2 separate regions of the Homo sapiens genome follow, and region 2 is linked to region 1. The links come from fine-mapping of genetic effects on plasma protein levels. A gene starts in region 1. The other region holds a variant in brackets. All regions are shown on one strand. Distances are between the middles of the regions.

The links. PIP is the posterior inclusion probability: the model's chance that the variant is causal. Protein levels are from antibody-based Olink assays in UK Biobank. Linkage for the fine-mapping came from a reference panel and not from the study's own genotypes, which makes the PIPs less certain.
Region 2: its variant is fine-mapped to the plasma level of the NCS1 protein (UK Biobank, PIP above 0.99).

Annotation. Positions count from the first base shown.
Region 1 is chr9:130,170,868-130,173,765 of GRCh38, reverse strand. It overlaps NCS1 (neuronal calcium sensor 1), which reads right to left and starts at 1,362. Exons shown (of 8, transcript NM_014286.4): 1 at 1,039-1,362. The coding sequence starts at 1,102. RefSeq lists a silencer at 1,296-1,385 and an enhancer at 1,460-2,248.
Region 2 is chr9:130,232,073-130,234,970 of GRCh38, reverse strand. NCS1 (neuronal calcium sensor 1) reads right to left here. Exons shown (of 8, transcript NM_014286.4): 8 at 1-1,981. Among named protein-coding and RNA genes, the nearest start is that of MIR12126, 7.9 kb to the left of the region's middle. The variant C/T (reference allele first, on the strand shown) is at 1,482.

The DNA of each region.
Region 1 (2,898 bases):
GGCGGTCAAGCTGCTGCCTCCAGGGGTGGTGCAGAGGGCCTGGGCCCACGCAGCTGCCCGGGGATGGGTTCTGAATTCCAACCCAAGCCCAGAACCACTGTCCCCTTCCAAGTCAAACACCCAGGCAGAGGTCCTTCCAGACCCCGATGCTGAAGCCTTCCCTCTGGCAATCCCCTGGGTGGTCTGGACCCATTACCATTAACCCCTGGTATGCCAGGGCACCTCCGGAGAGGCTGCAGGGAAGGGGGAAGCCTGGTATGGAGAAACTAGGACTGCAAGGGGACTGCAGAGTTGTGAAGTTAGGCAAGTGGAGGGAGACACACTGAGGCTGATCTGGAGACGCCCAGAAAGGACAGGCCATCCTCCTCCGGGCAGCCCGCGACAGCTAATGATCACACGCGGCCCAGATGACCCGGGCTGTAGAAACCCACTTCCCGGTGTGGCAGACAGAGATGGGGCCAGGGAGAATCCAGCCTGTAAGTGCTGCAACCCACAGGGTGCCGGGGACCCTTCACCGCCGTCACCGCACGACGAGCGCTGTGCCAAGTCTCGCCACCCCCCCCCCCACACGAACGGGGCCAGGGAGGGGGCGACAGGCCAATCTCGCAGCAGCGGCGGCGGCGGCATCGTGATGCATGAATCACCAGCCCCGCGCGCTCGTGCCAGTCGGCTCCGCGCAGCCGGGCGCCCCCTCCCGGGACCACCGCCCCACCCTGGCAACAGCCCCTGCCCGTTGGGACAGCTCTGCGGAGAGGGGGCCGCCAGGGGGCTGGGGCTGCCCCTCCGGACCTAGGGGTGGCGCCGCGCACGCCGACCGGCGCGCACTCCCCGGGCTGGGGGTGCCAGAACAATGGGGCCGGGCGGGGGGCAGGGGCGCGGCCCGGGAACCTCCGAGGGGTCCACATTGGAGGCCGGGCGGGGAGGACGGAGCGGAGGCGGCAGCGCGGAGCGGGTAGCGCGCGGGTCCGGGGGGCGGGGGCGGGGGCGGTGGGTGTGGGGGTGACCGCGGGGCGCGGGCTGGGGGCTGGGAGCACTCACAGTAGGTCTTCCTGGTCAGCTCCTCCACAACTTCGGGCTTCAACTTGCTGTTGGATTTCCCCATCCTCGGCGGCCGCGGCCCCCGCCCCCCCGGGCCGGACCCGGTTGGGGCGCCCAGCAGGAGCGGCTGGGCCGGGCGGGCCGGGCCGGGGCCGCGCCTTTGTCTGCGGCGCCCGCGCTGCGCTGCGCGGCTGTCGGCGCCGGGGCGCCCGGGGCGTGGGGCGGCCGCTGGGCAGGCCCGGGCGGTCCGGGCGCCGCGGCGCGGGGCTGCCTGGGCTGGGCGCCGGCGCCGGCGCGGTGTGGCCGCGGTCGTCCCTGGTTACTGGGCTCCGCGGCACATGCTCGCTGCTGCCTCCCGCCTGCCGCCGCCCCTGCGCTCCCCGCCTCCCGCCTCCCCCCTCCCGCCCGCACCCGCGCGCCAGGGGTGGACCCGGAGCCGCCACTCAGCGCCCGGCGCCACCTCCCGCCCCGCACCCGCCTGGCCGCGGCCTCCGCCAGCTGGACCCCGGCCTCGCCAGCCAGCCGGAGGGGCGTCCCCTCGGCTCAACGCGGCCCCAGGGCGGGGCAGCCACCCCCGCCACCCCCTCCCCGAATCCAGCCCTGGCGCTCCGGCCCCCGCCGCGGCGGGGAGGGCCCGGAAGATCGGATGTGAATGAGGCCAGGTCCCGGCCCGGAGACATTCATTCATTCGACACGGATTCATGGGGTGCCGGGGACACGGCGGCCCACGGGACAGGAGTGCCCCAGCCCTCGCAGGGCGGGCAGGGGGCTGTGCGGGATGCGGCAGGTAGCGGTGGGAGCACCTACTCTCGGCCTGGGGGCAGGAGACCTCCAAACCCAGGGTCAGGAAGGGAGGTGGATGGAGAAGCGTTCTGGCCCAGGCAACCTGGAGAGGCGGGGAGGCCTGCATGCCCGAGGGAGAGTTCCCCGGCTTGCGGGCTTGCGCACGGCTGCAGGCACAGGGGACCTGGGAGAAGGGCAGGGCCCACGGGGCAGGCCAGGAGAGGCCCCTCGCCGAGGAGCTGGGCCCCTGCCCACCAGCGCCCATGAAAGGACTTCAGCAGAGAGTGATGGGTCAGAGCTGCTGGAGTGACAGGTCAGAGCTGCTCAGAGCTGTTTCTCTGAGCCGAGGCTGGGGTGACAGGCTCCACCTGAATGGACAGAGGCCAGTGGATTCGCGTAGGGGGGTGTGGTTCAGGTGGTAGGTCCAGCATGGCCTTCCCGGTCCACCTCATCCAACATATCATCATATCTTGAGAACTCTCCTATCCTTTTCGGCTTTAGTTTCTCTCCTTCACATCCATCACAAACGTCACCTATGTTTTCTGCATCCTGTTTGTCTCTTCCATGGGAGAACACCCTCCCAGAGGGCAGAGGCATCTCCATAACCCAGAAGGCCGCCTGAGGTGTTACCCAGCAAATCTCTGTGAATGAGCGAAGGACGGAGGAAAGAATGACACCCGGTGCTGGGGCCCTGGGGTAGGGGAGAGAGCGGGGAGGATGAGGCAGCCCTCCCCGGGGCTAGCAGGGATGAGGCAGGAGTGGGGTCTCTTTCTCCCTTCTTTCCACAGTGTTCTAACCTCGGAGGGTCCAGAAAGCTCAGAGGAACCCTGAGCAGGGCCGAGTGCCTTCCAGCTCCCAAATATCTCTCCTGCCTCTAAGCATACTCCATCCACTCCTGCTTTCCCCTGAAGCCCCTGCCCAGGCTGAGCCCCAGGCCCCAGGAAGTCTTCAGATGGGGATGGACTTGCTGGCTTGGGGAGCTCATTCTGCAGAGGAGGTGGGCCCAGTTGGAGGGATCTGGTGTAGACCTGGGAGCAGAATGTCCCAACCTTGAGGACCAACTCAGAGTGGACAGCA
Region 2 (2,898 bases), 61 kb before region 1:
GCCTGCTTGCTGAGGGTGGGAACCGAGGACCAAAGTGTCCCCTCTAAAACATGGGCTGATGGGCTGTTGACTCTGCAAAGCAGCAGCAAGAATTCTAGACCCAGGCCTGGCCCTGACAGTCTGGGAAGCGGCTTCTCACCTCAAGCCTTCCCTGTGCAAGGACTCCTTCTGGGTCCCAAAGAGCGCTCAAGGGTCTGGGGGGAACCAGGAAATGCTGCGGGAAGGGACAAGGTGTGCCACATGACACATTCATCTGCTGGAACTGACCCCACACACCAGCAGCCACGCAATAGGGGCTGTGCTGTGACTCAGACAGTCCCTCGGGCTGCTGGGGTCAAGCAAACTTAACCACAGCATCACCAGCCACAGGAAACTGAACCCCAGGCCTAGAGTGACATGATGTCGGCATGGAAAAGGGCCTTCAAGACCAACCAGCCCGGGCCTCCTCGCTCTGCAGATGGGGCAACTGAGACCCAGAGAGGGCAGGAGGCTGCCCACAATCAAAGAGCAAGGGCCGGACCTTGGGCTCCTACCTCTGGTCCAGGGTGGCCTCGCATTCCTGGTGATGGTCCTGGGGCCGCACCTGCCTCAGTGGCAGGCACCGCTGGAAGCCTCCGTGAAGACATGTGGGCCGCAGCCCCAGGTGTAGGGACTATATTGATGGGATTGCCTGGAACTCTTCTCTCCTTCCCTCCCTCCCAGCCTTTGAGCCAAGAGAAGGCCAGGGAAGGACACCATGCAGTTTACTGGAAAAAGCAGATAGGAAGGAGGGAAGGCAGAGCGGGAGAGAGTCATGAACTATCTTGAAATCCCCTCCCCAGCCCAAGGAGGCGGGGGTCCCCTTGATTTCTGCTAACTTACTTCAAAGACCACCTCTCCTGACTCTGCCTGGGTACCCAATGCCCCTTCTTCCAGCTCCCAGCCTTAGGCGCCCTGTTTTCCATGCTGCGGCAAACACCAAAGCAAGAGTTGAGAAACCTAAAGATGTCCCCTGTTCATCCTCGGAAAAAATGTTACGGACCCAGGGGAGAACAAGGATGCGGGGACAGAGGCAGCAGGGAAAAGGGGTTTGGCAGGAGGCATTCGGGCTGGAGGGAACAGTGCATTAGCCATTTAGGAATTTCCACCTCTCCCCTCTCCAAAAATCAAGCACAGTATCTGAAAAAAAAAAAATTTTTTTTGGCTTCTTGGCCGCTGCAGGCCACCATCCTCCCAAGTCGGCGTGGGCAGGTGGGTCAGGGCGTGCACATGTAAACGGTGGGCCCGCAGCCCTGGGAGCTGAGGACACACCAGGCAGCAGCAACAGTTAACAACCAATAAATTAAAGATATCAATTATATATGTATATAAAAAAAAACCTCACTTTCCCCACAAAAAGCACAATACTGTTATCACAAAAAAAATCATCATCCTCATAATTAATCATCCTAGCCACGCAGGTGGTTTTGCTGCCAAAAGATGGGACGACAAATAACGTTGAC[C/T]AGGCAGAACCCCTAGACACCCTCGGCCCACCCACAGCCTCTCCGGCTGCCGAAGGACGAGGGACGAGGGCAAGGCAGAGTTCTCTGAGGTCCCCAGGCCTTCACCCCATCTGTCAGTCTGTGTCTTCTAGGACAGAAGGTAGTTGTTTTTTTTTCTTTTAAAACGTCTGTTCAAAATAAAAAACAAAAGCACACGCGCAAGAGAGCGGGAGGAACGGAGGCTGCCTGCGAGGCAGCCAAGTCCTTGGTTTATGCAGAGGGCTGTAGCCTTTTCCATTTCGTGTTGTCGTTTTCCGGACAAGCAGAGGTTGCTGGCAATTGGAGCCGGTGGCTTCAGGCGGGGGATGGGTGCAGGACAGGGGAGAGGAGAGCCGGGGCCTCCCGGGTCAAGGGCAGCCGGCTGTGTGTGGATGCGGAAGAAGGCTGGGTGGACGCACGGGGTTGGTGTCAGGGCTGAGGTGGCCTCATGGCACAGAAGGAGGTGAGTGGTTCCCAGGCATCTGGAAGACACAAGGAGGCAAGATGGGTTAAGATCCAGCCACAGCGGATAGGGGTTAAGGTCTGGCCACGGAGGATAGGCACAGAGAGCTGGCAGGAAGGTCGATAGATGGCAAGCTGGCATTCTATGTCAGAAGTCCTAAAAATGTGCATAACCTCTGAGGCACCCTTTGGGTTTTTTGGTTTTTTTTTGTTTGCTTTTTTTTGAGTTGGAGTCTTGCTCTGTCACCTGGGCTGCAGTGCAGTGGCATAATCTCGGCTCACTGCAACCTCCACCTCTTGGGTTCAAGCGATTCTCCTGCCTCAGCCTCCCAAGTAGCTGGGATTACAGGCGCCCGCCACCATGCCTGGCTAATTTCTTTTTGCATTTTTTAGTAGAGACAGGGTTTCACCATCTTGGCCAGGCTGGTCTCGAACTCCTGACCTCATGATAGACCCGCCTCGGCCTCCCAAAGTGCTGGGATTACAGGCGTGAGCCACCGTGCCCAGCCTATATTTATCCTTAATAAATAAATGTTTACCACTGCACCATCTGTAATAGCAGAAAACAGAAAACAAAAATGGAAGCAGAGAAAACAATCTAAGTGTCCAGTATCAGAGGAGTGGTGGGATACATTAGGACACACCCACAGGATAAAACAGTTTACAAACCATTAAAAACAACACATAGAACAGTCGATAAACACATGAAAAGATGCCCAACATCCCTAGTCATTAGGGAAACACACATCAAAGCCACAGGGAGGGCCAGGAGTGGTGGGTCAAACCTGTAAATCTAGCACTTTGGGAGGCCAAGGCAGGAGGATCGCTTGAGGCCAGGAGTTCAAGACCAGCTTGGCCAACACAGTGAAACCCGGTCTCTACCAAAAATACAAAAATTAGCCGGACGTGGCTGCGCACACCTATAATTCCAGCTGCT